3 linked regions of the Homo sapiens genome follow. The protein of the gene in region 1 purifies or fractionates together with the protein of each later gene. This does not show direct contact. Each region holds a gene or a part of one and is shown on either strand. Other genes may lie near its edges. The genes, in order: SCPEP1, GALNT16 and CTU1.

What was found.
Region 2: the proteins of SCPEP1 (region 1) and GALNT16 purify together in Homo sapiens (co-immunoprecipitation; 2 studies listed by BioGRID and IntAct, with this or other methods). This does not show direct contact.
Region 3: the proteins of SCPEP1 (region 1) and CTU1 purify together in Homo sapiens (co-immunoprecipitation; 2 studies listed by BioGRID and IntAct, with this or other methods). This does not show direct contact.

The regions. Positions count from the first base shown.
Region 1 is NC_000017.11:57,000,476-57,009,463, reverse strand, and holds the end of SCPEP1 (retinoid-inducible serine carboxypeptidase precursor), read right to left. Parts: intron 8,610-8,988; coding exon 8,472-8,609; intron 7,447-8,471; coding exon 7,283-7,446; intron 3,292-7,282; coding exon 3,229-3,291; 3' UTR 2,696-3,228; downstream 1-2,695. UniProt on the Homo sapiens protein: May be involved in vascular wall and kidney homeostasis.
Region 2 is NC_000014.9:69,331,852-69,342,701, reverse strand, and holds part of GALNT16 (polypeptide N-acetylgalactosaminyltransferase 16), read right to left. Parts: intron 9,618-10,850; coding exon 9,533-9,617; intron 9,206-9,532; coding exon 9,102-9,205; intron 4,052-9,101; coding exon 3,925-4,051; intron 3,176-3,924; coding exon 3,083-3,175; intron 1,022-3,082; coding exon 938-1,021; intron 1-937. UniProt on the Homo sapiens protein: Catalyzes the initial reaction in O-linked oligosaccharide biosynthesis, the transfer of an N-acetyl-D-galactosamine residue to a serine or threonine residue on the protein receptor.
Region 3 is NC_000019.10:51,096,455-51,107,304, forward strand, and holds the end of CTU1 (cytoplasmic tRNA 2-thiolation protein 1), read right to left. Parts: intron 8,137-10,850; 5' UTR 8,116-8,136; coding exon 7,608-8,115; intron 2,686-7,607; coding exon 2,147-2,685; 3' UTR 1,152-2,146; downstream 1-1,151.

The sequences.
Region 1 (8,988 bases):
GTTGCCAAGCCCATGCATAGCCTCCATCCCCGCCGCCATGGCCACTTTGTTCATGAGTCTACAGGAATGGCTGAAGGAGGCTAATAGCCACAGAATGGGTCATCTACCCACCTGATTATTAAAATCTTCCCTTGCCCTAGTTGAGTATTCAGATGGAAAACAATGATCTTCATACTCGGCCATTCAGAGATCTAATCTCATACCTCTTCCTCAGAGCTTCTTGTCATCAATTTTCTAATCAAGTTTTTTTTCTTTTTGAGACAAGGTCTCACCCTGTCACTCAGGCTGGAGTACAAATATGGCTCGCTGTAGCCTCAACCAACCTGCCAGGCTCAAGTGATTCTCCTACCTCAGCCTCCTACACAGCTGAAACCACAGAGGTGCACCAACATGCTGAGTTAATGTTTTTATTTTCTGTAGATACAGGGTGTTATCATCTTGCTCAAGCTGGTCTTGAACTCCTGGACTCAAGGGATTCTCCCACCTCAGCCTCTCAAAGTGCTGGTATTATAGGCATGAACCACTGTGCCCAGCCTTCTAATCAAGTTTCTTCCAAGTCCCTAAATACCCAGCTAAATCATGAATTGGTGCACTTATTCTTCTGTTCATTTCCCCTTCCAGGGAAAGTGAAGAGCTGAGTGCACTGTTCCAAGTTCTGTCCACTGGGAGGATTTCTCTTCACACCATCTTTCAGGGCTGTCCTGGAGTGTGGCCGTGGTGCCATAGCGGTCCACATTCAGGTGATGCATGCATACTGTGGAGCCCCGTCTGTAAATCAAGCCTGAGAGTTGTCTTCCTTTGTCAACTGATCACAGGGATTCCCTAGGAAGGTAGGGGTGTGGGTTGAGAGAGAATGTTATACAGCAGGAATAAGAGCCCTGGGCAAGTCTAGGAATTTACTACAAGATCTTAGGACAAGACATGATTAACCTGCCCGGACAGCAATGGAAGGGCGGCTTCTAATGGCCAAAAAGGTTTGAGGTCCCCTAGCTTCATCTGTGCAGGTGACTCATCTCAATGTTCAGAATTACATTTCTTCTCAATCAATGCACTAACTTTTAACAGAAGAGACTCTGTGAGGTTGGGAATTCAACTTGCTTTATGATTCACTGCTTTGTTGGATGGTTCACCAAGACTCACAAGGCTCAGTAGCAGGTTATACTAATAGCTAACATTTTTGTAACAAAAGATGCATATCAAAAGCGGCAGGTAAAAACGATACACATGGGTGATGTCCAGGGGTATCCAGCACAGGCTTCTAAGGTTCTTGCTTTCCATGGGCACACTGGAGTTCTTGCCAACAGTGAACCATAGGGACATGTGTAGTCTCTGTCCCAGGAGCCTGTTTTTAGTCTCAGGGTCTGAAGGGGTTAGTCACGTAGACATAACCTGCTGTTAACTGTTTCCTCACAGTCTGCAGGAATAAGCTTTGGGTTTGTTATTTTTTTTAATTAATTAATTTATTTATTTATTTTTGGGACAGAGTCTTGCTCTGTTGCCCAGGCTGGAGTGCAGTGGCGCGATCTCGGCTCACTGCAAGCACTGCCTCCCGGGTTCACGCCATTCTCCTGCCTCAGCCTCCCAACTAGCTGGGACTACAGGTGCCCGCCACCACGCCTGGCTAATTTTGTGTGTGTGTGTGTGTAGAGATGGGGTTTCACCGTGTTAGCCAGGATGGTCTCGATCTCCTGACCTCGTGATCTGCCCGCCTTGGCCTCCCGAAGTGCTGGGATTACAGGCTGGAGCCACCGTGCCTGGCTGTTTTTTTAAATCTCAGCCTTTGGCCAGGCTTGGTGACTCATGCCTGTAATCCCAGCACTTTGGGAGCCCAAGGCAGGTGGATTGCTAGAGCCTGGGAGTTCGAGACCAGCCTGGGCCACATAGTGAGACTCCAACTCTACGAAAAAATTTTAAAAATTAGCTGGATGTGATGGTGCTTGCCTGTGGTACTAGCTACTTGGGAGGCTGGGGCAGGAGGATCATTTGAGGCATGATTGTGCCACTGCACTCTAGCCTGGGTCACAGAGTCTCAATAAATAAATAAATAAAATCTCAGCCCTGCAACTACAAGAGGTGATATTTCTTTCAGACAGTCCTAGAAGCTGTTAGATCCCCTATGCAGATTTTTTTTTCTTTTTGAGATGGGGTCTCTGTCACCCAGGCTGGAGTGAGTGGCTTGATCATGGCTCACTGCAACATCAACCTCCCTGGCTCAAGTGATCCTCCTGCCTCAGCCTCCTGAGTAGCTGGGACTACAGGTGTGTGCCACCATGCTCGGCTAATGTTTTTATTTTTTTTGTAGAAATGGGGTCTCCCTATGTTGCCCAGGCTGTTGTTGAACTCCTGGGCTCAAGCATTCCTCCTGCCTCGACCTCCCAAAGTGCTGGGTTTATAGGTGTGAGCCACGGCATCAAACCTCCTTATGTAGATCTTGAGCTATGAATAAAAAGTTAAAAGTCCTGAGCTAATTATTTTGATTTTAAGGAAATGTGGCAATCCTCTGACTAAATAATTACACTTTTATGAATTTATTCTAAGAAAATAAGGAGGTACAAAAAAATCTAACTATCAGGGTGAATCAACAGAGCACTATGTATAATAGCAACAAACTAGAAATTATTATACTTGTCGGAAACAACTGGGAATTTTGTAAATAAACTAGAGTACAACCATAAAGTAGAATGCTCCACAGCCATTAAAAATGTTAGAGAAGAACATTTATTGACATGAAAAGGTGTTTCAGATATACTGATATGTCAAACAAATAGTAAAACAACATAGAGTAATGATTCATTTTGGTAAAAAATATATATGTATATATAGAAAAAAAAATTCTGCAAGGACATATGCTAAATTGGTAACAGTGCTTACCCCTGGGAAGGGGGTATACAGATGTTGATTTACTCTTTGGGTACCTGTATTTCCCAGTTTTTCTATAAATCACATCATTTGCTTCTGTCATAAGAAAAAATAATATCTATTATCATCCTTTATTTTGATCAAAACAAATCAATTTTTTAAAAAATCTTAGGTTTTTTTAAGAAGCAGAAATAATTTCCAAATTGCCTCCAGAGACAATGATTTTATCCTCTGCAGAAGCTGGTCAGAACCTTCTTGATCACAGCCCCAGTTAGATACAGGGAAGAATGGCGCTTCCTACAGCTTCAGCGGCCTCAGCTCAGCTCTGTGCCCCAAGGCCAAACCAGCTCATCTCCAGCCCCATCCATCCTATTCTTGCTGAGTCACCAGTCTCATCATCTTCAGAGCCATGTCCCCTTGGTCAGAAGGAACCTAGAAAAAAACAACATCTGAGTTAGTGCTCCTGGTGCTATTCCTGGGGCTGGGGTCAGAGGCAACATCCTGAAACCTTGCTCCCAAAAGGGAGCCAGCTCTGTGACAGCAACCTGTGCAGACACCTGGGCACATCCCTGAGAGAGGGTCCTTCCTGAAAATGACTCCTGCACTGGATGAAAGCTCTTCTGGGCCCTGACTGGGCTGGGTGGCAGGGACCTGGAGAAGTCAGCATTTAAGACAAGAACCTTCTACTCCATTTGGAGCTGATCTGTTGATTTCTTGGTAAGGGTCATGCTAATGATACTAGACCTAGCCTGTTCAAGGAAGAAGGAAGATTCTAAACATTTTAAAGGCATCTGTCTAGAAGGGATCCCGGATTGAGAATAGAGAAATGGCTGAGAAGGGAGCTCACAGCAGAGAGCCGCAAATAATAAAAACAAACAGGGCCCTTTGGGTGGCATCCGATTTTCGCAGTTATTCAACTTTCTTTTGTTTTCCCTCAGATTTTTAGAATAAGTCCTTTAAAATTTCCTTCCCACACAGCATCAAAAGGGGGAAGGGCAGAGGCCTCAGTTTCTCCCTACACAGAAGGGGTTGGAGTATATGGTCTCCCCGTTATGTAATTCCCTGGCTCCATGATTCTCTATGGCACACCCATCCTTGACTCTTCTGCCAAGAGTCCCCAGGAGGCACAGGCAAGGTGGGTTATCCTAAAATGTCATTTAATCAATGAAAGGGGAAGTGGTTTGGGGACGACTTAACAACAGTCTCCAAGGGCTATTTTAAGCCTGTCCCCAACTGATCTGTTGTTCTATATGTGACAAACCAACAGGAAATGGGCCTGAACTCTAGTATACAGAGCGCGTGGTTGGCTTGTTCCATGCCTTCCTACCAGCCTCGTCAGGGACTTCTCTCTAGGGCAGGCTGAGCATCCCTCATTGGAAAATCCAAAATGCTCCACAATTCCAGCCTTTTTGAGTGCCACCATGAGGCCACAAGTGGAACATTTCACACCTGCCCCATGGGCGGCTGCATTCAAAATGCAGGCGCACAACACACAGTTTATTTCTGCATCCCCAAGGGGGTTACAGTACAGTAACCTTTTAATCAAAACACAGCATTGTAGGTAGAGACCGAAAGCTGCTGTTGCTTGCTGTTGCTGTTGTCTAGCAGCTGACACAGGTATTCTGGTCATGCTACTGTGCTGCTCAGTTACTCTGAACACACAACTTTTCCACTGTATTAATGGTATGTTGTATTTCTTACTGTGAAGTACTTATGTGTGACTACATGCAAGAAAAAGATTGCTTATCGGCAGCATATAAATTTGGAGTCAGAAATGATATGATGCCTAACAACCACAGATTGGTTGAAGAGCCATGGGTGGCTGAAATAGCCACCCTTTGCTCTCTAATAACTCAGTGCACACAAACTTTGCTTCATGCACAAAATTATTTAAAATATTGTACGAAAGTACCTTCGGTCTATGTGTATAAGGTGTATATGAAACATAAATGAATTCCATTGCCTAGACTTGGGTCCCATCCCCAAGATATCTCATTATGGATATGCAAATATTCCAAAATAAAAAAAAAATTAAAAATCTGAAACATTTCTGGTTCCAAACATCTCAGATAAGGGGTACTCAACCTGTAACAGTGCTTGCTCTAAGACGTTCTAATTTTCTTTCTTTTAGTCAATATTGAAGGTACTCAGATCCTGAGAGCCATAAATAATGCCCTCTCCCTCTGTGCCCTGCTGCCTTGTTTGTTCTCCCTTTAGATTAAGTCTATTTGTTTATTTATTGATTTACTTTTTGAGACAGAGTCTCACTCTGTCACCCAAGCTTTCAGGCTCAATCAATCCTCCCACCTCACTCAGCCTCCAGAGCAGCTGAGACCACAGGCAGGCGCCACCGCGCCCAGTTGATTTTTGTTCTTTTTTGAGACAGAGTCTCACTCTGTTGCCCAGGCTGGAGTGCAGTGGCGCTATCTCGCCAGCTGGATGCAATGGCACTATCTTGGCTCACTGCAACCTCTGCCTCCCAGGTTCAAGCGATTCTCCTGCCTCAGCCTCCTGAGTAGCTGGGATTACAGGTGCCCACCATCATGCCCAGCTAATTTTTGTATTTTTAGTAAAGATAGGGTTTCTCCATGTTAGCCAAGCTGGTCTCATACTCCTGACCTCAGGTGATCCACCTGCCTTCGCCTCCCAAAATGCTGGGATTACAGGTGTCAGCCACCATACCCAGCCTAGATTAAGTGTCTTTTGAGAGTGGGCTGCTTTCTCTGGCTTCTTAAAGGAAGCTACTGTCTCTTCTCCTCACTACTCATTCATTTTCTCCAGTCTTTCCAATCTGGCTTCTGAGCTTGCCACCTCACCAAAATATCTCACCAACGCAGGTGCCAAGGACATCGGTGTAAGCACATCATCACTCACGTTTCAGCCCTTCCCCTGAGTTCTCACTTAGCACTGCGGGCCCCTCCCTGCTTTGGGGATGCCACGCATCCCTGGTCTCCCTTCTCACTTATCTGGCTGCTCCTTTCTCAGTCTCATTTGTAGGCTCTTCTTCTGCCTTCTGTTCTATAGGCAATTCAAACTCAGCTTGTGCAAATTCCCTCCATCGCAAACCACAATGCTGGAGCAGAAACCTGCAAGCCACCCTTCAGTTCTTTTCTACCCCAAATGATTACCAAGTCCTGCCAATTTTCCCTTCTTTACACTTCACCAAATCCATCTACTTTCCTCCTTTCTGGATTTACCTGACAGCCTCATTGATTGGTCTTTGGCCCCAGGCTTGCCCCATGCCCTCTACTGCTAGAATGGTATTTCTTGGACAAATCTGTTAATTTCACTCCTTTGCTTAAAACCCCTGCTTGGTGCCCTACTGTCTGAACTCCTTAGAGTGGTATGAAAATTCCCCCTCTGCAGCCACCTCCCTCCAGTGTCCATTCCAAGTCCTCGCTGTCTGAGGCTCCTGTGGACCTTGTATTCACTGCTCTCCATGCTCCCCACCTCCTCCTCTTTCCTTAAATCACTCCTACGCATCACGTGGGGCACAATCTTCCAGATCTGCATGCCTGGGCAGGGCACCCTTCCCTGGGCCAAGCCAGCTGTTGACAGTCTCCTTGCCTGTCTGTCTCTAGACCACAAGCTCCTTGAGGACAGGGACTGGGCACCACTCACCCTTGTGCTCGCAGTCTCTAGTGCTAATAGCGGAATTTTGTTAGGAAACTCAAAACACTCCCAAGCCCTAAGTATTTCTTTTTTAATTTTTCTTTTTTTTTTTTTTTTTGAGACAGGGTCTCGCTCTGTCACCCAGGCTGGAGTGCAGTGGCATGATCTTGGCTCACTATAGCTTCTAACTTTCAGGCTCAATCAATCTGCCCACCTCACTCAGCCTCCTGAGCAGCTGAGACCACAGGCATGCGCCACCGTGCCCGGTTGATTTTTGTTCTTTTTTGAGACAGAGTCTCACTCTGTTGCCCAGGCTGGAGTGCAGTGGTGCTATCTCGGCTCACTGCAGCCTCCACCTCCCGGGTTCAAGTGATTCTCGTGCTTCAGCCTCCCAAGTAGCTGGGATTACAGACATGTGCTACCACACCTGGTAAATTTTTGTAGAGACAGGGTTTCGCCACGTTGCGAAGGCTGGTCTTGAACTCTTGAGCTCAAGCGATCCACCCGTCTCAGCCTCCCAAAGTGCTGGGATTGCAGGCATGAGCCTCTGTGCCTGGCCTAATTTTCATATTTTTTGTAGAGACAAGGTTTCTCCATGTGGCCCAGGCTGGTCTCAAACTCCTGGGCTCCAGCAATCCACCTGCCTTGGTCTCCCAAAGTGCTGAGATTACAGGCATGAGCCACTGTACCTGGCCCTCGGGCCCTCGTACTTCCTACAAGACCCACCTGGGCAGTGGACAGAGGCATAATAACCGCCTGTGGCTTCCCTCTCAGGATGATTTTTAAGTCTGGAACAAAAGCTCTTTCTTACCATATGACCAGCTTTCAGAATCCAGTAGAAAGCAAGGTTCTTGTAGGACTTGACAAAAGCAGATGTTTCCAAAGATTTAGGGTCACTGTACAGGGCCTTCCACTTCAGCTGACTGAATTTAGGCAGTTCTGGCCACTTCAGTTTCCGCACCCAGGCCTCCTGACCTGGTGAGAAGGACAAAGAGAAAGGCCTGGCATTAACAGCTGGATAGAATAGGAAAAAAGTCTAGGTCCTAAAAGTTGGTGCTTCCCAAACTGCAATATGCATGAAACTCACTCAGGATCTTGTTAAAATGCAAATTCTGATTCAGAAGATCAGGGTAGGGCCTGAGCATCTGCATTTCTGACTCCCAGTGAAACCTAGGCTGCTGGGAGAAACCTAACAGCTGCAAAGCCTGACTGATTTTGCCTCTGCATCTCTCACCGCCATCTGCTCTTTAGGAAGGGAACTGGGGACCTCTGGAGGCAGACAGGCCTGTGAGGAGGACTGAGAGATGTCGTGAACGAGATAGTGATAAGGATCACCTGGGATGTTCATCGAGAAATGCAGCAGCTTTCCAAATTGTCCTTGGTGTCTCTTGTTTACCCATCACAAAAATATTCAATCCTTCTGGTTCACGAGGCGTGTCACATCCGTCAGACCTTGTGCCTCAATTACCCTGCCAGTTCAGAGAACCTGTCTCTGAGCCTCCACCAGGCCCTATTTAATTTGGAAGTGAGCAAATTAAACAGGTGGTAGGTGATAGGGCAGGAGTCAGGATTCCACAAAGACCATTTCCCCTGGGTCTTCAGGGTTACAGTCATTAGGGTTTAGTTTTAATTCACTCTGCAGTGGTCAACATCGACTGTGATGTCGCACAAAAATGAGGCTCTCCCTTAATTAAACAGCGCATTTGCCCAATAACCAGGAAAATGTCTAAGTTTTGTGGTAGAGACAGGTGGTGTTCTTTTCTTTAATCATACCTAAGGGCCCCCAAACCCAGGTAGGCTCAGGCTTCTGAGGGGTCACAGCCACGTGCAGCTCCCCACCCTTTGAATAATCAAGGTCGGGGTAGACGGATGTAATGGGAAATGGCCTTCCACCTGGCATTTCAACATCACCCACCGCAAGACTGACATGTCCAAGGCCAGTTCCCTTCCAGTTGAACCCATAAAACTGCCTCTAGGTGCCTCTCAGAGTCAATTCCTACCCATGGTATCTACGATGAGATCCAGCTGTCCATTATACACCGTCACGTTGATCCCTGCCTCCAGCAACTCGTCCACAATGCTAATGACTGGCTTCATGAAGTCCTCCTCCATGTTCACAAAGACGTTGGTAGCCTGGCCTGCACATGGGGAAGGAGAAAGAGGGAGTAGCTTGGAATCTGCCAAAACAGGAGGTACCTTTCAGCCCAGAGCATCTTGGGCTCCAGCACCGAACAACGACTGAATGCACAGATGCTTCACAAACAGGGATGAACCAGCCCAGAAATTTGTGCCGACTGGTCAGGTGTAAGGCACACATAAATAGCACATGTGGTCCATTCTCTTGAGAGCTTGTGATGACAGCAGGCACCATTTTTAATGAGGAATTGACACCTGGAATAGGCTACTGTCCAAGGAAACAGGGAGGGAGAGGCCCAGGAAATACTCATTAGGCTGGTACACTCAGGGAATAAATTGTGCTTTGGGCCAATGTCAGTTTTCCTGTTTTTTTGAGTAACA
Region 2 (10,850 bases), on another chromosome or scaffold:
CACATCATTTGCATTTTGTTTTCTCATTTGCCAGAGCAAACATTTCCCTGTGTTTTCTTCACAGTTTCTATGATTATAATATTAATGGGTGCATAATATTTGTTTAGATCTATGTATAGTGATTCACTGAAGCCAACCCCTATTGTTGATTCTCTCCTTTTCTTTTCTTTTCCTCTCCCTCTCCCCTTCCTTCCTCCCTCCCTCCCTCCCTCCCTCCCTCCCTCCCTTCCTTCCTTCTTCCACCTTCCCTCCCTCCCTCCCCTCACCTCCCCTCACCTTCCCTCTTCCTCACCCTAACACTTAGGCTGGAGTGTAATGGCATAACCAGGGCTCACTGCAGCCCCTACCTTTTGGGCTCAAGTGATCCTCCCACTCATAGGTGTGTGCCACCACGCCCAGCTAATTTTTTGATTTTTAGTAGAGACAAGGTCTCATTATGTTGCCCAGGCTGGTCTCAAACTCCTGGACTCAAGCAATCCTCCTGCCTTGGCCTCCCAAAGTGCTGGAATTACAGGCATAACCCACTGTGCCTGGCGGTTTCTCATTTTTTCACCACAGCTATTGATCTGCTGGTCAACAGCTTCTGCTTTGGTTGCTTTATTTCCTTAGGATAAACTCCCAGAAGGGAGAGAACAGGGCTAAAGGGGACGAATGTCTCTGCAGCCTTTGCTATGTAATGCAGTGTTGTTTCCTAAGGGGATAACGTCCATATCTAGATCTGAAACCATTAAAAATTCGGTTCCCACCACACCTAATTTATAACCCCTAGTAATGCCCTCTCAGTTCCCCCACAGCCGTCACGTGAAGATAAAACCCGGCAGCTAGAAAGCCAGATCACCAGTGTTGAGGAGATCTAAGGGTGGGGTGGGACCAAAGCCGCTGGCCCCAACCACCCCCTACCCGCCTGGGGGATGCACAAGATGAGGGCTGCACTCACGTGAGCTCTGGGTAGACGTTCTCCAGGTACCAGCGGAAGGACTTGCAGTTCATCTTCTTCCTCTGCTCTATCCGCGTAGCCACACTGTAGGAGGAGGCAGGGCTTGGGCTTTGGCCTGCCAGTGTGGAAGGCAGCCCGAGGGAGGATGCCAGAGGCCTGTCCCCCAGCCCCAACTATCTCAGGCAGGCAAGGACCAGGAGACTTCCAGCCTGCCATGTCCAGCCCTGGCCACTTATCTGATGTTATTCTCTGACTTGCAAGCTCAAGGCAGGTCTCCTGGCTATGCCTCACTCATCAAATTCCTGCCTGGAGCTCACCTTTCAGGGTGAGCACAGACCATACGGGACCATGCCTTTCTCTCGGCTTCTCACTCCTTAAGACCTCTGTTAGCAGACCATGAACTGGTCTTTATCTTTGCAGAATTAATGAGAAGTACAGGAGGAAGGTCTAACAGCAGGAAGAGCAAGCTTTAAACATCTTTAGATGTGTTGGCAAATAAAACCATTAGATGTGTCCTTGGGACACCGCCATCCTCACCTTCCTCAGGTACACCCACCACAATGGCCACTGGTTGACGGCCCTCGTCACCAGCTATCTGAGCCTCAGTTTCCTCTACATTCAACTGGGGACACGACCACTCATCTCAGAAGGCTTTTGTGAGAATCAAGTGAATTAAGTGTGAAGCACTTAGCACAGGGCAGGTGCTAAGTAAATGTTAGTTCCTCATTACAAGAAATATTTAGTGACATAACTTATTTTTTCAAAAAAAGGGAGATAGATATGAATAAATAGGGAGAAGATTCATTGATCATCATTAATAGTGTTTTCAAACTTTTCTGACCACAAGCTTAAGTAGGAGATAACTATCTTACATTTGTAATATAATACGCCCCATGTACAGTCAGCCCTCAGTATCTGTGGGTTCTGCATCCATGGATTCAACCAACCTTGGATCAAAAATACTTAGGAAAAAATTTCAGGCCAGGTGCAGTGGCTCATGCCTGTAATCTCAGTACTTTGGGAGGCCAAGATATGCAGATCGCTTGAGATCAGGAGTTCGAGACCAGCCTGGCTGACATGGTGAAACCCCATCTCTATTAAAAACACAAAAAATCAGCTGGGCATGGTGGCACGTGCCTGTAATCCCAGCTACTCTAGAGGACGAGGCAGGAGAATCGCTTGAACCCAGGAGATGGAGGTTGCAGTGAGCCTAGATTGTGCCACTGCACTCCAGCCTGGGTGACAGAATGAGACTCCATCTAGAAAAAAAAAAAAAAATTCCACAAGGTTCCAAAGCCAAACTTGAATTCGCCACGCATCGAGTACCACATTGAATCCATGCAAATGACGTGATGTGTAGGCATTGTATTAGGTATTATAAGTAATCTAGAGATGATTTAAAATATTCAGGAGGTTGTGCATAGGGTATGCAAATACTACACTATTTTATATCAGGGACTTGAGCATCTGTGTGGATTCTGGTATCCGTGGGGGGTCCTGGAACAAATCCCCTGCAGATGCAGAGGGGCAACTGTACATGTGTAGGTACATGCATGCACACACATGCACCCACAACGGAAATAAGAGTTTCATAAGGACAATACTAACCCTTAACTGCAATCAACTCTTATTTTCTATCCTGCTCTGTACTAATCTAATCTATAGGGTTCTACTTCTCTCTCTCTCTTTTTAAATGCTGGTCACGACCCACTAAATTGATTTCACAACCCATCTGCATTTTGAAAATGCTTAACTAGACCATAGTCCTAACAGTCCATGACAGGAAAATAGGCTAACAGATCTCAATTTTGAACAGGGAGTGGAGGCAGAACCCCAAATGCTTTCTGCAGGCAGCCCCCTCCTAAGCAGTTCCACAGATGCCTGTTCTTCTGCAGGCAGCTGTGGACAGGCAGCTCTTTTTCATAAGCGAGCCTTCTCTCCCATGAGATTTCACGCTCCTCAAAGCCTAAGGTCTTGTCTCTGCGGTTGCATTCCCTCCCAGGACCCAAAGAAGCCCATTAGAGTGGGACCTCAGTGGCTGGGGAGGTGGCGGGTGGTTCCCTGGCGTACATACCACTTCGTATTTTGCTGGGGTTGTGCTAATGTGGGTAGAGGGAGTCAGACAGTGGAGCTGGGGGGGCCCACCTGCCGAAGGCCTTCCCGATGGCCGAGGGCCGGGCCTCATAGTAGTATTGCTTGTATTCATCCATCCACACTTCTGCAGTGCGCTTAGTATTCCTAAAAGGAGAGGAAAGAGCAAAATAAGGTCACCAGGGAAGCAACAGGGTTAGCGGTCAGGATCAAGATTAATCGATCCATGAATACAGGACGATGAGAATCTCAGGAGCAAGGTGATACTTGGATGGTATAGATTAGCACGGTCCTTTTGGAAGACAGTCTGTCAATACCCATCGACTTTGTAGGTATGCAGCTAGACTTGGGCAGCTGCTGCTCCAGACGCTGTACGAATAAGCATGAGCTCGACAAGGTGAAGAACCATCCACATGTACGAGGGTGCTCATGACAAGTCCCTCATCCTCCCCTGCCAACCTCCTCAGGAGAGCAGACCGTGGAGTGGTCTTCTAGGACATTACCCACTCTCCCTTGAGACTAGTGCACCCTGTAGCTGGGGATAGGGATGGACAGATGGTTGATCAAGTCAGGGTTGGGGCACAGGCATCCATGACCAGCACTCGGGGCTCCATGAGTGGAGAGCATGGCTTAGTTGGGGATTTGGCCAATTTTCCGAGACTCATATGGACAAAGGAAGTCCATATGAGTCTCAAGGCAAGAGAGACCTGGTGGCAACTCCCTCCACCCCTGAAGGTACCTGCAATCCCAGGATGTTACCAGAGGGGGCAAATGGGGAAACTGAGGCCCAAGAAGTGAGGTGGCTGCCCACAGTCACATAGTGATAACTGGCAAGGCTGGGGGCTTGGGCCTTGGTGTCCTCCTCTGAGTCCCGTGCTCCTTTCTCGGTGACCTACCTGATGTAGGTGAGGGCATTACCCTCAGGGAAGTTGTAGGGGTGCCGTTTCCTGAAGACATGGCCCACCCGGCTGCAGGGGACGATCTCCAGACTGCCACCACACATCCACACCCTGAAGGAGAGCTCTGCAGGAAATAGTAGCCGTCAGGAGGAGGAAGGGGTTCCTTGGCAAGTGAGGGTGGGAAGGGGCTGGCTTCCCTTCCCTTTGGTGTCTCACTGGAGGTACATGTTGGGGTCGGGGCTCCTGGGCCTGCTCAAATGGAGTGCTCCCACTCCTTGCACAGGTTCCTGACTGCCCACTCTACGTGTGTACGTGCACATGCACACACACACATATACACATGATCCCCGTGGCCCATTCCAGGAAGAGCAGTGGAAAAAGCTTGAAGGAACACCAAGAACATAAGTAGAAGGAAAACAACCAAACAGTGGCATCATTTCCAGGCTCTGTCTAGAAAGCCCCAGACAGACATGAGCTAAGGAAAAACACATCTGCTCGTCAGCCAGCTCTGTGCACCTGAGAGGTCGGAAAACCAGCCACCAACCAAACCACAGGCTGCTCCAGCTGGCACCTCTTGGGCTGGCCCCAACCTCCCTCTTGACCCAGTTGGTCTCCTTGTACAGGCTCTCACTGGCCCTCTTGAGCCATGCCTCCTTTTGACAGCGGTGGTGGAGCTGAACCAGCTTTTGTGGATGACTGTGGTCCCCAGTGGTGTCGGGAGAGCAGTGGCCATCCTGCTGCCCAGAAGGGGACCTCAAAAGTTACCACTCTGATCTCCGCTCACCAGTTGCCATTTATGGTAAGGACCCACCTTGACAGCTGGCTGAATCTCACATAATCTCTTTTGATTTCGTACTTTCCTTCATATTAACCCTATAGTCTCTTCCCACTCCTCAGCTGGCTCTAAGGACACTCATGATCTCCAACCAGGCCTGGGGGCTCTCACGTGGCATAGCTGGTCAGGACCCTCCCAGTAACTAGCAAAGGGCAGAGTGGAGGAAGCAGGACTAAAGCCCACCTCTGGCCAGCCTGTGTGCACCAAGTGACGTCCAGATGTGGTTCAGGGCCAGGACCGGACACTTGGCATACCTGGACCCACATGTAAGGATGGCTATATCAATGGGCTTCCCTAGGTCTGCCTATAAACTGCCAGGCATCCGTCCCTTCTCCTGGTCAGAGCTCTGTGTTTGGCCTCAGCAACTAAGGCGTAGAACTGGGCACAGTCCTGGGGGGCCGAAGATCTGCATTCTGGTTCCATTTCTGCCATCCCAACTTTGTTATGCTAGTTAAGTCACTTCATCCCACTCAGCCCATAATGTCTATAATATTATTAACTATTGTTATTATTATCAACAATGGCCATAACAATAGCAGTAACCATCCATTTACTGAGTACTTACTACATGCCATGCTCTTTCTATCCAATATCTAATTCTCACTGCAACCATGTGAAGTCAGGATTTTTAGCCTTATTTTTTTTAACGAGGACGTTGAAGCTCAAAGTTGTTAAATAACCTCTCCAAGGTCACTCAAATATTCAGTTGCAGAAGTGCAGCATCAAGTTCACATTGTGTCCAGCAAGCCACACTGTCAGATTCTTTAGTTCACTCAGCAAATTTTCATTATATGTCAGACACTGCTCTAGATTCCCTTGTACTCTAGCAGGGAAGTGAGAAGACGGGAACTCCATAAAATAAGGGGCAAAAAAATGCAAGTAAACAAGAAAATGCATAAAAATGTAGCATGTCAGCCAGGTGCGGTGGTTCACGCCTGTGATCTTAGGACTTTGGGAGGCTGAGGGCGGCAGATTGCCTGAGCTCAGGAGTTCGAGACCAGCCTGGGCCACATGGTGAAACCCCGTCTCTACTAAAATGCAAAAGAAATTATCCGGGTGTGGCGGCATGCACCTGTAGTCCCAGCTATTTGGAAGGCTGAGGCAGAATTGTTTGAACCCGGGAGGCAGAGGTTTCAGTGAGCCAAGATCGTGCCACTGCACTCCATCCTGGGTGACAGAGGGAGACTCTGTCTCTAAAAATAAATAAATAAATAAAATGAAAAAAATAAAAATAAAAAATAAAATAAATACAGCATATCAGATGGTAGTTAGGGCCATGGAGAAAAATGAATCAGGCTGGGAGCTGAAGAGGGCCAGTGGATGGTGGTGGGGGAGGACTAAGACTATGTTTTAAACCAGGCTGATGAGGGGAGTTGTCACTATAAAAGGGACATTTGAGCCAAGACCTGAAACAGATGAGGGAGCAAGTCCTGTGGCTAGCAGGAGAAGAGCATTCCGGGCAGAGGAGCCGGCAAGGGCAGGTCCCTAGAGGCAACAGCACAGCTGGCAAGTTCAAAGAGGCCATGCTGGCTGGGGGCGGTGGCTCACGCCTACAACCCCAGCCCTTTGGGAGGCTGAGGCGGGTGGATCACCTGAGAGGTCAGGAGTTCGAGACCATCCTGGCCAACGTGGTGAAACCCCGTCTCTACTAAAAATACAAAAATTAGCCGGGCCTGGTGGTGTGTGCCTGTAATCCCAGCTACTCAGAAGGCTGAGGCAGGAGAATCGCTTGAACCCTGGAGGCAGAGAGTGCAATGAGTAAGATTGTGCCACTGCCTTCCAGCCTGGGCAATAAGAGCAAGACTCTGTCTGAAAAAAAAGGAGGCCGTGCAGCCCACGTGGAGTGAGGCAGGGTGGGAGAAGTGGGAAGTGAGGGCAGGGGTGTGGCTGCGGGGCTGCAGGGAAAGGCAGATACCCTGTAGCCAGTAAGGAGTTTGGGTTTTCCTCAGAATGACATGAGAACTCTTGCAAGGTTTTGAGCACAGAAGCAACATAATCTATGTTTTAAAAGGATCCCCAACACATCTTTGTTGGGGATCCTAACCTTGCACATCTGCCAGCCCCACTCAAGGTGGCCTCTGGGCTCCCGAGTTTGGAATTCTTTGGGGACAAAAGAACACGTCTTGGTTTGGAAATCTCCCTTCCTTCAATAAAGGAATAAAAGGAAAGGCTCAAACCCACCAGCGACAGGAGTCTCATAGCTCAAAACTGGTCCCAGCGGCTGAACGTCTGAGCACTGCAGCTAGCCCAGACATTTCTTTGAATTTCTTCTAAGAAACAAAACCCTTGCCAGAACCACTCTGTGGTTCACCTTTCAAGTTCTCCAACCACGGAGCCCTTGCCTCAGGCAGAGTTTGAAATGAGCTGTTTGATCATTCACTTGTTTCTCTGTCTCTAGCCTCAGAAAAAAAAGAAAAAGAAAAAATGGCCTTTGGAGGCAGAGCAAGGAGACTGTGGGTTTCCCAGCTTTCCAAGTCTTCACAGGAAACTGGCTTTGCCAAAGCCCTTCAGGCCGAGATTGAAGACACAAAGCGGGTCACTTGGACCCAAAACACATGAAAGGGGTCAGAATGGAGGGGTCACTGCACCCCAGTTCCCAGAATTTACTTCTCTGAACCCTGCCTGGAAACAGCCTCCAAAAGCAAGTTACAAAGCTGGGGGAGTCCCATGCCCATTCCCACTCCAGCTGGTTTTGAGTCGGGATCAGGCCTGTTGCAAGCCCCCTCACTGCTATTTTCCTCATCAGGGAGAAAGAGTTAAAGAATCCCTGCTCCTAACGTCTCAGAGACATAGACTGTGCCTTTGCCAACGTCCCACAACACATAAGTGGCTCTGGTAAAGGAGCTGCATACGCCCATTAGATGTGGAGTTTCCGGACTGAAATCTAGAAGGCAGCATCCACCTCAGTCTTTCTACCTGTCAAATGGGTGAGATACCACCAGTGCTAGTTATTGCTCAGAACACCTGGTCAGGAAGAAGAAGGAAGCAGTGGGAGAGGGCTCTGTGAAGGACTGGGCCCACCAAGAGGGCAAGAACAGGCCACCAAGGACCTGCCCCTGCTCCTGGAGACCCCCAGAATGGTGCTCCCCACCGCCCCCGTCTCCACGTCGCTGTTTGTGAGACAGCCCCTGGGGGCTGCACTGCTGGGTTCCCTTCCTCAGGCAGACAGGGAGGCACCAGCAGGAGATGACGGGGTGGGGGTAGAGTGAGGGTGAGTGTTTAGCCCTGACACTCTCCACCTGGTGCCATGGGCTGGCTGCATGTGCCCCAAGACCACAGCTCCATCGTGGGGTGCTCCCTCACCCTGTCTTTCAGACCTTGGGGTGGTTACAGCTCCCAGAAGTCACAGCCCTGCCCAGTACTGTGCTGTCCCTATGGTTCCCTCTATCCTGCCCGCACCATGTAAATAAGCCCTTTAATAAACACTCAAGTCGGTTGCACCTTCCGTATTCTGCCAGGACCCTAACTGATGCTCACCCTTTATCTAACCTCCATCTCACTTGCAACCCTGTTTTGCAAATGAAGAAACTGAGGTTCAAAGAGTTGACTGGCTTGCCAGCCCACACATACTGGAGTCCAGAGTTTGGGCTCCGATCCCACTTGGTAACCCTTCCCTGGTACTCTGTGGCCCCAACACCGTGAGCTGAGAAGCAAGTGTGTGAGGGTCCAGCCCCCTCCAGCTCCCTACTGGAACACTTTGCCCCCACCTCTGTCTCCTTCGCTGCTGCTTCAGGGCAGGGAGGGGCAGCTTCCTGTGCTTCTGAGTCTAGAGACTGCCTAATGACAGTGGCCACCAGCACTGTGACCTGCCTTTAACTCATCACCTCATTTAGTACTCATAACAACCTCTTGAGGAAACTCAGACTTTAAAGGGCTTTAACTTGCCCAGGGCCAAACAGCATGCAGGTGGTAGGGTCAGGGTTTGCACCCAGGCCATCTGACTCCATCACTTAGCATTTCACCACCACCCTCTACCACACACCTCCCAGCCTTGCTGGTAGGGAAGCAGCCACGTGTGTAAGCTGTGGTCTGTGATACAGTTGTGTGTTCTTCCACACACATGTCCAGCCATGTGACCACGGGCTCCCCCTAAATAGAACCTCTTTGTTTACTAGCTGTGTGGCTCTGGACAAATTGCTTAACTTCTCTGTGCCTTGGGTTTTAAAATCAGTAAAATGGAGATCATGGTACTTACCTCAGAGGGTCCTTGAGAGAATTAAATGACCTCATGTGTGTAAAGTCCTTAGAGCAGGTCCTCACGCATAGAAAGTGCTCTGTCAGGGTTAACTGTGGTTATTACTGCTACTGTTATTTTCACTGTCACTATTTCCCAACTCACCAAAATTCTCTCCCCCCCAGATGTCCATCTGGGCATCATACTTTCCCAAGTGGTTAAACCAGGACTTGTCGATCACGAAGATTCCTCCAGCTATGACAGGCGTCCTGGGAGCAAGGAGAGGGAAGACGCAACACGTGAGCTGGAGAAGCAAGGAGGCCCTTTAGATGGCCCCAGGACCCAAGACCGTCTGCCTCTAGATCCCTCCCTGCAGAGTCACTGGGGCAGGATGTCTGGCCAGCTCCCTGGCCCCCCACATCTGTTCCCGTGGCCTCTGTCCTCGCTGTCCCTGCATACAGGGTCCGAAGGCCCAGAACAGAGTCAGCACTTAGTGCGCCTCAGGAGCCCAAGCGACCGATACAGCCTCCCAAGAGCCTCCCAGGCCCCTGACCCAGGGAAGGAAGGGGTCCCCCAGAGCCCACCGCAGCTCTGACCTTATGGGCCTGGTGGGGTCTGTCCGGGTCATCTTCTGCTCAAGAGGGATCTGCTCCCACTTGAAATGCAGGCTCCAGTCGAACCCTAAGGGACACAGCAAGGTGAGGACAGAGCTCAGGGCAGAGCTGCGGGCTGCTGAGACCCTTCACTCCACCACCCCTCGGAGTCTCCCCTGATCAGAGCCCTGGGCTCTTCGTGCAGTCCCTCCTTCATTCGGAATGAGCCAAGCTCCTCCTCTCAGGAAGTGTACCATCTACTGGGTAAGACAGAAGCTACAAAGATAAATAAATCAGTGGAGACTATGTCAGCTGGGGATGAAAGTACTAAAAAAAAAAAAAAAAAGAAGAAAACAAAGAAGGAGTGCCCATACTATTAATATTTTAGTTAGAATAGTCAGGAAAGGCTCTCTGGTGACTTTGGAGTAGAGACCTGAATGAAGGATAGATCCATGAAGATACCTGGAGAAAGGGAATTCAAGGCAGGGGCAGCTGCCAGTGCCAAAGCCCTGAGGTGATTTCCCAAAGGGGAAATGCCTGGCTCCCTTCAGAATCCCACTCAGACTCACAATCTAACTAATGGCTGGGTCCATATACTGGGAGTCCAGATCCCAAACAGGAAATCCACTGTGCCCGCCAGCTCCCAGCAACAGATTCTCTAGAGCAGCACAGTTCCATAGAACTCTCTGCAATGATGAAATGTTCTGTATCTGCATTGTCAAATATGGTAGCCACTAACTTCATGTGGCTACTGAGCCTTGAAATGTGGCTAGTACAGTTAAGGAACTGCCTTTTAAGTTTTATTTAATTTGAATTAATGCAAGTTTAAGTAACCAAAGGTGACTATTATCTACTGTACTGAACAGCCCGTCACAGTCCAAAAGAAATATAATGCAAGGCACAAATGTAAGCCAAATACGTAATTCAAAATGTTCTAGTAATCACATCAGAAAAAGAATATATGAAATTAATTTGGACGAAATATTTTTAATGTAATATATCAAAAATATTGTCATTTCAACATGTAATCAATACAAAAAATTACTAATGAGGTATCTTACATTCTTTCACACTAAGTCTGGGTAACCTGTGGGTCTTCTATGCCTATAGCACTCTTAATTCCAACTAGTCACTTTTCAAGACTAGTCATATTTCAAGAGCTCAATAGCCAAATGTGGCTGATAGTTGCCATACACAACACTGGTCTTGACCATCTCTGGGGCGCATGTGTTAGGAAGTCATGTGAGGCTGAGGGCTCCCTACTCCCCATCCTCAAGACAGCTGTCACATCATGGCCTTCTGCCGGGACTTGTGGCCATGA
Region 3 (10,850 bases), on another chromosome or scaffold:
AAATACCACCTGTACCCCAACAACTTATGGAAAAATAAAATATTAAAAAATAAAAAATAAACTTTTAGATTCTTCTACATACCAGTTAAAAAAAATTGGTGCTGAAAACCCATTCCTTATGTCACTGAGCTAATGAGGAAGGCAGGCACACTTGGCACTAGGACTGGCACACAAGCGTCATCCTATACAATTGATCTTGATCATCTTGCACCCCCTACAGCTCATTCTCCTCACAGCAGCTGGAGTAACTTTTAGAAAATGGAAATTGGACCCACTGTTGGGACCAAAGCCCTCCAAAGACCTACCATCACTCTTAAAATACAAGTCTTTCTTGCCAACAGAAGACCATGCACGGCCCATCCCTGCTTAGTGGCTCGTTTCATCTCTTGCTATTCTCCTCCTCACCCACTCTGTTCCCGCCACACTGGACTTGCTGTTCCTTGCACTTGCAAGCTGATTCCCACCCCTCCAGGCTTTTGCACCAGCAGTTCCCTCCACCAGGAAAGCTCTTCCCCCAAATGGCTCCATGCTTTGTTCTTTTGCTTCTGTAGGTCTGTGCATAACGTCACTTCCTCCAAGGCCCTTCCTTCCCTGACCCCTGTGGAAACAAGCTCTTCCTGTCTCTCTCTCTCATCATTTTTTTTTTAATTTGTAGCATTCATCACTACCTGACATTACATATTGATGTGCTTGCTGTCCGTTTCTCCCAGACTGAACTTCATGAGGGCAGAGACTTGTCTCCTGTTCACTGCCATGTTCCTAGAACCCAGAGGAGTGCCTGATGCAAAGGAGATGCTCATACACGTTTTGAGTGAATCATCTAGTCCTTGGCCTCCAGCCCAAGTTTGGGTGGCCACACAGTGAAGACAGGACTGAGAAGCAGGGGTTTGGGAGAATACTAAGCCCTGGGTTGGGTGATGGGAGGAGAGAATTGAGAAGCCTTCTAGGAGGACCCTGGAGGATCTGAGCAGGGTGATGGGAAGAAGGGGCATTTCTGACAAGAAGCCAGCCCAGCAAGTCCTGGAGGTGGGACTGAGAGCACCATCTCCCCGGGAAGTTTGAGATTCTCACAACCTCCCCGTACCTGTACAGGACAGCAACCCTGAGACCCGGCGCCCCCTGGTGGTCAGACAGTAACATGAACGACCAAGTCCAAGTGGTCACCATTTATTGAGCACCTCAACTTCTCTGATCTTCCATTTCCTCCCAGTGGTGCCTTGATGCGGGGGGGATGGGGGGGCGGGGGGGAAGGGGGCTGATTATATTTTCATAGGAGAAATGGGACATGAAAGAGGCTAAGTCACCGACAGGCTCACACAACCCTGCCTCCAGAGTCCAAGGTTTGGGGAACGCATCCAACCCCTCCTCACCCGTGACAGAGATACCAGGAGAGATTCGAGAGGGGATGGGTGGGGGAGGACCAATTCCACGACCTGTGATATTCGAGAGCTTTGGAGGGAGCCCTCGGTGTGACCCCTTCCGACTGGGTGTCTTAGGGCCATTTACCACTTCAGGCTACAGCCAGTGAGACCGTGGTGGAGACGAAATGAGGGTGCAGTGCGTGCTACACACGAAGCGCTGGAAGGGAGGCATCGTGACGGCGGCTGTGAATGGCGTGTGTCCATCAAGTCACGCTCCGCTTACCCCACTGCGGGCAAACAGGAAACATCAGGAATCTGATGCTCAAGGAGGGTCAGGACCATGCTGAGCGCACCCAGAACCAGCAGAGGCCCTGGGCAGGAGGTCCCCAACCAATCCCCACTCGCTCAAGAATCACACGGTGTTCAGCCCCCTCCTCCCTGAGACCCAGGAGTCCACGACCCCAGGCCCTCCTTCCTCAGCCACAGATGCCTGGGGTCCCCAGTCCCACTTCTTCTAGGCTTAGTCCTGGCCCTCTCCTCTCTCAGACCTAGGATGGTCCCCCAGCCCCCTCCTCCCTCAGAGCCTGAAGCCCAGTTCGAGACCCTTCTTCCCTGAGACCTCGAAGTCTGGGGTCCCAGCTTCTTCAGGGTTTCAGGTGAATGGGCCCCCGTCTCCTTCCCAACCCCACATGGAAGGCCAGGTAAGGTAACGGGTTTATTCACAGTGTCATTTACAGGCAGCCCCCACCCCGCGGCATCAGATCCCGGCGGGAGGCCCGAAGTCGCTAGAAGGTGGGGACGGCCTTGGAGGCGGGGGGCCGGGCCGGATCCCCGGGCGTCCCCGGCGTCGCCTCCTCGTCCAGACCCCGGCGGCCCTTGCCGATGGCCAGGCGGGGCCGGCCGCGGTTCAGGCCGTCCAGGAGCGCGCAGGCCTGGCAGAGCGCGCGGCTGGCCAGCGCCCCACAGCGGGAGCAGGCGCCGGGGCGCGGGGGCCGCGCGGCCGGGGCCAGCGCCAGGCGCTCGGCCGAGTGCACGAGGTCCAGCACCGCGGACGGCCGCGCCGCCTCCAGGCGCTTGAGCAGGTCCCGGGCGTGGCCGCGGAAGGCCTCGGGCGCGTAGACGCACTCCTCGGAGAAGTAGTCGAGGCGGCGGAAGTGCGCGTACAGCACCACCTCCTTCTGCGAGGCGAACTGCAGCGGGCGGCAGCGCGGCAGGGCGCCCCCCTCGCCGGGAGAGCCCAGGCCCCCGCCCCGGGCCAGCCGCCCCGCGTCGCCCCGTAGGAAGTTCATGAGCACGGTCTCCGCCATGTCGTCGGCGTTGTGACCTGGTGGGGAGAGAAGGGAGCGGGTGAGGTGGGGCGCGGAGGGCGCTGCTGGCCAGGGAGCCCCCCGGGGAACCAAGGGTCCACCAGGACCCAGAGAGAGACTGGGAGGAGAGACCCACGGAGACCCAGGGCACAGTGGGGCCGCCAGGACCCAGAGAGAGACGGCGACGGGGAGAGCAAGCCATGGAGACAGACCCCCAAACATGGTGTGACAGCCAGGATCCAGAGACAGGGAGGGGGAGAGAGAGCCATGGAGACCCCTAGGGCACTGTGGGCAACCAGGACGCAGAGAGAGACGGGGAGGGCAAGAGCGAGCCATGGAGACCCTCCGGGAACCGTGAAGCAGCCAGGTGCAGGCTGCAGGTGGACACAACAAAAAATCAAAGAGAAACATAAGCTCCCCTGGCGCAACTTGGGCGTGCCTTCATGTACCACCCGCCTACTGCATAGCGGACCTTATGCTAGTTGCCCTTTCATATAGGGAGTAAAAGTGCATTATGCTGCTAATAACCTTATCAGCCTCAGTTAAAACCGTAATTCAAACTGTACACAAAAATCAGAAGGCATTTAAGGCATTTAACCGAGATTCTCAGGAGAGCTGGAGGGGTAGGCAGGCTGCTGTCTCCCCCACCGCCTAGGGAATCCATGGCCTAATTCTGGGAACCTGTTAATATGTTTGGTTGTAGGACAAAGGGGAATTAAGGTTGCAAGTTGAATTGGGGCTGCTAATCAGCTGACTTTACAATAGGGACAGAATGGTGCGTTATCCAGGTGCGCTCAAGGTAATCACAAAGACCCTTAGAGGGGAGGAGGGAGGCAGAAAAGGGAGAGATAGGGCCATGGAGACCTTTGAACATAGTGGGCAGCCAGGACCCAGAGAGAGATGGGGAGGGGAAGCCTGAGCCATGGAGCCCCTCTGGCACCATAGGACAGCCAGGACCCAGAGACCGGGAGAGGGAGATGGGGCCATGGAGCCCCCTGGGCACTGTGGTGCAGCTAGGTGGTGGCTGGAGGTGGACACAGCAGGAATTGAGAGGGGAACACACACAAGCTCCCTGGGGAACTTGGGGATACCTCATTTGCCACCCGCCTACTGCATATGGGGGGTGTGAGGGCAGAGGCAAGGTTAGAGTGATGCAAACGGTGTAGGACTCAAACTGCCATCCTTGGCTTTGAAAATGGAGGAAGAGCCGGGCACAGTGGCTCATGCCTGTAATCCCAGCACTTTGGGAGGCTAAGGTGGGAGAATCACCTGAGGCCACGAGTTTGAGACCAGCCTGGCCAACATGGCAAAACCCCCATCTCTACTAAAAATACAAAAATTAGCAGGTCATGGTGGCAGGCACCTGTAACCCCAGCTGAGGCATGAGAATCTCTTGAACCTGGGAGGGAGAGGTTGCAGTGAGCCGAGATCACTCCACTGCACTCCAGCCTGGGCTCCACAGCAAGACTCTGTCTCAAAAGAAAAAAAAGAAAAGAAAATGGAGGAAGGGACCATCAGCCAGGAATGTGGGCAGCCTCCGGAAGCTGGAAAAGGCAAGGAAATGGACCCCCTTGCCCCAGAGCCTCCAGGAGAAAGGCAGCACTCTTGACACTTTGATTTTAGCCCGGTGAGACTTCCCAGACTTCTATCTACAGAACTACAAGATAATAAATCTGTGTTGTTTAAAGCTGTGAAATTTGAAGTAATTTGTTACAGCAGCCAGAGAAAACAACTGGTTCTTGACACAGAGCCTCTGACAACCCAGACTGTAGTTTTTTTATGGTTTTTTTTTTTCATTTTGTTTTATTGTGCGTGTGTGTGTGTGTGTGTGTGTGTGTTTGAGACAGGGTCTCACTTTAGTGCCCAGGCTGGAGGACAGTGGCACGATCTCAGCTCACTGCAACCTCTGTCTCCAGGGCTTAAGTGATCCCCCTGCCTCAGCCTCCAGAGTAGCTGGGACCACAGGTGTGTGCCACCATGCCCAGCTAATTTTTGTATTTCTATACAGACGCAGTTTCTCCATGTTGGCCAGGCTGGTCTTGAACTCCTCTGAGCTCAAGTGATCCACCTGCCTCGGCCTCCCAAAGCGGCTGGGATTACTAGCATGTGTCACCACCCCTGTAATCACTGCAGTGTTTTTGTGTTATCTTTGTTTAGAAGTAACAGTGAGAAATATTTACACACTGGTCACCATGAAATTGAAGCTAAACTTGTTCTGTGTCTTGTCAAGTTATACTTGAGTCTATATCAGTGGTTCTCAATCTGGGATGAGTCTGCCCTCCTTCCCTCCCCCAGAGACATTTGGCAATGGCTGGAGACATTTCTGTGTGTCAGGTTGGGGGTGGGGCACTACTATTAAATAGCATCTAGTGGGTAGAGGCCAGGGATACTGCTAAAATCCTATAACACAGAGGACAGCTCCCTAAAAACAAACTATCTGGCCCCAAATATCAATAGGGCTGAAGTTGAGAGGCCCTGGTCTATATGGTAAAAAACCTCCAAGAACTTGGCTCTAATTGTGTTTGTAGTAATGGTTACCTCCCAAAGACCTGCCAAGCCCTGTGACCTTGAGATTGGGCATGTTTGCTACTGCAAACGACATCTCGTTGAATGTTTATTGACTTAAAGTTGTAAACCACATTAATTAGGGGAGACTGGATTTGCTCCACACCTTGTCATTACAAACCCACTTAAGAGCTCCCAGTTTTGTAATAATTATTACAACAATTATTATACTACGCCTTTGAAAATGGAGTGTATAAACAAAGGGTAGAAATCACCTTGCAAGTCAGGGATTTTTCTGGAAGGCTTCATTACTTTTGGAAGTACAATTAATAAGTGATTCTATCAAATTAACTTTAAAATCCGAGGCAGCCTCTCATTCTTTTTTTTTCTCCCCCAGCTGGAATCTTGCTCTGTCACCCAGGCTGGAGTGCAGTGGCGTGATCTCGACTCACTGCAACCTCCGCCTCCCGGGTTCAAGCAATTCTCCTGCCTCAGCCTCCCGTGTAGCTGGGATTACAGCCGCCCACCACCACACTCAGCTAATTTTTGTATTCTTAGTAGAGACGGGGTTTCACCATGTTGGCCAGGCTGGCCTCGAACGTTTGACCTTGTGATTCCGCCTGCCTCAGCCTCCCAAAGTGCTGGGATTACAGGTGTGAGCCACTGTGCCCGGCCGAAGCCTTTCATTCTTTCCATACACTGTCTGCTCTTGTATGGTAAGGATTATTCTTCCCATTTTCAATCACAGAGATCTAGGGATTTCTCCAAAGTTACTCAGTAAGGAAAGGGCCACATCAGTGAATGAAGCTCAGTAAGCCTTCCCCAGAGCCAGTGGCCCTACCTAGCATGGTGGCACATGACAGCCTCAGAACTACTTTTGCCTTCATATGCTTTCAGTGTGCTGATTCTCTCCAACCATCATCTCTCACCTCCATCACCGCAGCTGGCTTCCCACTGACTGGTCTCCTCGGCTTTGTCCCTGTCCCTCCAACCCAGGTTCCTCGCCATGGCCTGGGTGAGCTTTTCAAAGTGAAACTCTCTTCATGTCACTTTTACTGGTTCCGCCACAGCCTACAGGGTAAGGCCTGACCTCTTCCACCTCTCCAGCCTCCCCTGCCCTTGCTTTCTGGGTTCCAGCCACACTGGACTTCTTGGGGCAGCCCAAATTGGCTTTTCACAGGCCAATAACCTCTCCCTAATTCTTACCCGCTTTACCTCTTCACTGTGAGCCTTCAGATTTCAAAACCGTTCCTTGACCCCACTCCCTCCACGTCATAGGGTTCTCTGTGTGTACACATAGTCCATAACATGTCCATACATGGTCAATAACATGTATAATGTTTATAATTTTGTACCTGATAACCATGCAAAGGTAGGAACTTGTGCGTAACTGTATTCTCAGCCCTAGCCTGACAATGATGATGATAATAGCATGTATAAAATGTGTAATCTATATTATATCATACGGGTTATGTAACATAACTATAATATAGATAACGTTATACTTCTACTGACTCATCTAATTGTCATAACAAGTTTATGAGCTGGGTACCATTCATAGTCCTGTTTTAGGGATGGGGTGAAACAGAAGTACAGAGTGGTTAAGAACTTTGGTATGGCCACAGTTGGGATCCGGCATATAGCAGAAACTTAGCATCTGTTTGTTGAAGGAATGGATGAAAAAGACAGAATAAAAAAGTTATCTTCCAGCACTTTGGGAGGCCGAGGTGGGTGGATCACGAGGTCAGGAGATCGAGATCATCCTGGCTAACATGGTGAAACCCCGTCTCTACTAAAAATACAAAAAATTAGCTGGGCGTGGTGGCAGGCACCTGTAGCCCCGGCTACTCGGGAGGCTGAGCCAGGAGAATGGCGTGAATCCGGGAGGCAGAGGTTGCAGTAAGCCGAGATCGCACCACTGCACTCCAGCCTGGGAGACAGAGCGAGACTCTGTCTCAAAAAAAAAAAAAAAAAAAAAGTTATCAAAGAGGAGAGGCCAACCAAGAAAAGGAATTAAGAGATGGAGATGCTTTTTAGAGAAAGAGCTGGATTCTGAAAGGTGGACCATAAGAGATCAAGCATGTTAGAAACATTTAAAAATAAGTAAAGGACCAGAGATCTCCAGAGATTTTCACCTCCCACCCCTTTGGCAATCTGTGGAGACCAAGACGGTGGCCAAGACCCAAAAACCTTTGTGATCACTGCCTGGCCCCTCTGTCTCCCCAGCGTCTTGAACCTTTAAAGGGCCCCAGCCCCAAACTGCAGCATGCGCCCTTCCGCACCTCCGTACAGGGATCCTCCCATTAAGCCACCAGGGTCTCCTCGCCGCCTTCTGGAGCATGCGCCTGAATCCCCTTTCAGGTCCCGCCTCCTCGCCTGTGCATTCGCCCCACTGCCTCGGAGAGTGCCGCTCTGCGGCCCGTACTACGCTCACCTGTCACGATGTGCGTGGCTCCCACGCGGCGCGCCCCTTCCTCCAGCGCCCGGCGCCGCAGCACTCCACAGAAGGTGCAGCAGGAGCGGCTGCGGCCGGAGCCGGCTGTGCTGCGGGCCACGGCGTCCATCGTCCAGCCCCCAAAGAGGTCTTCGTAGGCCACGACCGTGAGCGGCAGCTCCCAGCGCGCCGCCTGGCGCCGCACGGCCGCCAACGCCGCGTCCCGGTAGCCACCGATGCCCTCATCGACGGCCACGAGCTGCAGTGAGATGCCCAGGCGCGGCGCCAGCGCGCGCAGCACGTGCGCCAGCACCGTGGAGTCCTTGCCGCCCGAGGCGCCCACGGCCACCACCGCGCCGGGCGGCAGCAGGCGGCCGGCGAGCACCGTGTGCAGCACCTCGGCCTCGAAGGCGGCGCAGAAGCAGGCACCGCACAGCGCTTGGCCCGAGAGCGGACGGCGGAGGGCGGCGCGTGCAGCATGGCAGGAGGCGCACGGCGGGGCGGGCATTGCGGGAGGGGTCGGCTTCTCCTAGACAGGGAGAGAGAGGAGGTGGGTTACATATGGATTCCGGATTGCAGGGTCCCTGCCATCGGGGAGATTGTCTGGATTGCACCTCTGCCCGGAATAGACCAGGGAGACGTGTGCGCGAGTGGAGTAGCTTCTTCTAGCGCTGGGGATAGGATGGTTATAAATAGGTCCGGTGTAAGGAAGCCACTGCCTTAGGGAAGGCTTCTTGGATTGCACCCATTATGCAAGAAGAAGAGAAGTAGCTTAAGAAGCTGGCTTCATGGGTAAAGAGAGGGAGCGACAAGCAGGTTATACCCAGGATTAGGTTGTGTCCTCTCCAGAGGGATGGGGGTGTATATTAAGGCCCATTTGTCACAACCTCCAGGGAGGCCACCCTTGTTACAGTCCTGATCAGGACAAGGTAGGTATCATTGGCCTGGGCCACCAGGGCTGTTAAAAGCCCTTGGGAGGTGAGGGGTTTTTGACTCTAAGGGCAGAGGGAGGCCAGGGGACTGAAGCTCTGTGCAGCGGGAGGTGGAAAACAGGAAAGGCCAACTGATTGCACTTTGTAGGGTGGGATACGGTCTCCAGGAATGGGTTCTGATTGCATCCTATGAAAGGCAGGGTGATCACCTTCTCCAGGGAACACAGGCAGCCTGGATCACACCTCTCAGGAGACCAGCTGGGGTTGCACACATTTTGAGGGTGAGAAAATGGGTGGGCCTCCAAGATTGAACTCAACCCTGCTCTGGTATCAGAATGCCCCACAAGCTTCTGTGCTCTCACCAAGACATGGATCGGCCCATCTTTGACCTTCATCTGTTATCTTTCCTACTTCATTCTTCCCCACCCAGCCTAGACTCCAACCCTCCAGTCAAATCCTGGTCCTGCCTGCCTGGTGAACCCATAAAAACTCCCCAGGCTCAGTTCTCCTCCCCAAGCCACCATCACCTCCAGCCTGGACTACTGTAGTCACCTCCTTGCCATTCAGAGCAGGTCACGCTGCTTCTAGGATTTACCACAATGTGTGGAATTATTTTATGTGACTATATATTTACCATCTCTAACTTCTATGAGGGCAGAGACCAGTACCACTCAGATGTCTAATAGGCATCTCAAAACCCAAATTCCTGATTCTTCTAACCCAGCGTGCTTCTCCTGGAGTACAGGGCAGCTCCATCCTTCTAGCTGCTCAGGCCAGGAGCTTTGGGGTCCAGGACCCTGGACTGCTCTTTCTCTCACTGCACTTGTCATGCTCCCAGTGGGTGGCACCAAACTGCAATGCCAAGTCCGGACCTTTTCAAACTCCAGGTACCTAAATGAAATTTAGCAAATCCTGTTTGAATGTAGTTTCAAAACAGCCAAACACTTAGGACCGTCTCCACGGCAGCACCCTAGTCTGGTCTGTCTCTCTCCTGGACGGCTGCATGGGGCTCCCCACAGGTCTCCTGCTCCCGCCTTGCCTCCTCTACAAACACTCCTTCACATAACAGCCAGTGGGATCATGCCCTGAATCTTCTCAGCATCCTCCCCTGGATCCCATCTCACTTTAGTATAATAACTGCTAATGGCCGATGAGGCCCTACATGTGTGGCTCCTTGTTTCTCCAACCTCCTCTCCTTCAGCCTTGATGTCGTTTACTCTGACACCTGAGGAATACTCCTGCTCCAGATGTTTGCACTGGCTCTCCCCTCTGCCCTGAGTACTCTTCCTGCCACTGAGCCCAAGAAGCAGCCCTTAGGACTCATCTGCAGTGACCGTCGGGAACATCTGTCACAGGTGAGCAGCAACTCTTGGAATCTTTCTTCCCCCGACTTTTGACTCACTCCTTCTGTGCTCCTGGATTTCCTGCTCAATTCTCTTTTGGGGACGCCTCTTCATGTCCTCAGGTCCTGCCTAGCACCCATCTCTTTCCATTTTTTAAAGATTTTTAATTTAATTTAATTTAATTTTTTGAGATGGAGTCTGGCTCTGTTACCCAGGTGGAATGCAGTGGCACAATCTCGGCTCACTGTAACCTCTGCCTCCCAGGGTCAAGCGTTTCTCCTGCCTTAGCCACCCGAGTAACTGGGACTACAGGCGTGTACCACCATGCCTGGCTAATTTTTTTTTTTTTTTTTGTATTTTTAGTAGAGATGCGGTTTCACCATGTTGGCCAGGCTGGTCTTGAACTCCTGACCTCAAGTGATCCGCCCGCCTCGGCCTCCCAAAGTGCTGGGATTACAGGCGTAAGCCACTGTGCCCAGCTTCTTTCCATTCTTATGAGCGCCTCTGAATCATGATATTCAGATGTCCCTCCTGGCTGGTCCTCCACATGGCTGGGGCACCTTAAAGATGTTCAGACCCTAAGCGCCCAGACAACCTATTTCTTCCTCGAAAGGCAGAAACCTGTTCTTGCCCATCTGTTCCCTCTCTTCTGAGAGCAGCCACCACCTTTCATCCAGCCCATCTGCAGGACAGGACGTAACGTCACCCTGGACTCATCTCTCCTCACCCCCTAAATCTACAGTCACCCAGTCCTGGGGGGTCCACGTCCTGAGGAAGGGAGACGCTCGCAGGGGACAAGGCTGCACAAGTTAGCAGAGCCTCATAGGCCATGATGTGGAATTTTAGGTTTATTCAGGAGGAGATGGGAGCCTTGGGAGGTTTTTGAACAGTAAAGTGGTATGATCTGGCATGTTTTAAAAGGATTCCTAGACTGGTCAACATAGCGAGACCCCATCTCTAAAAAAATA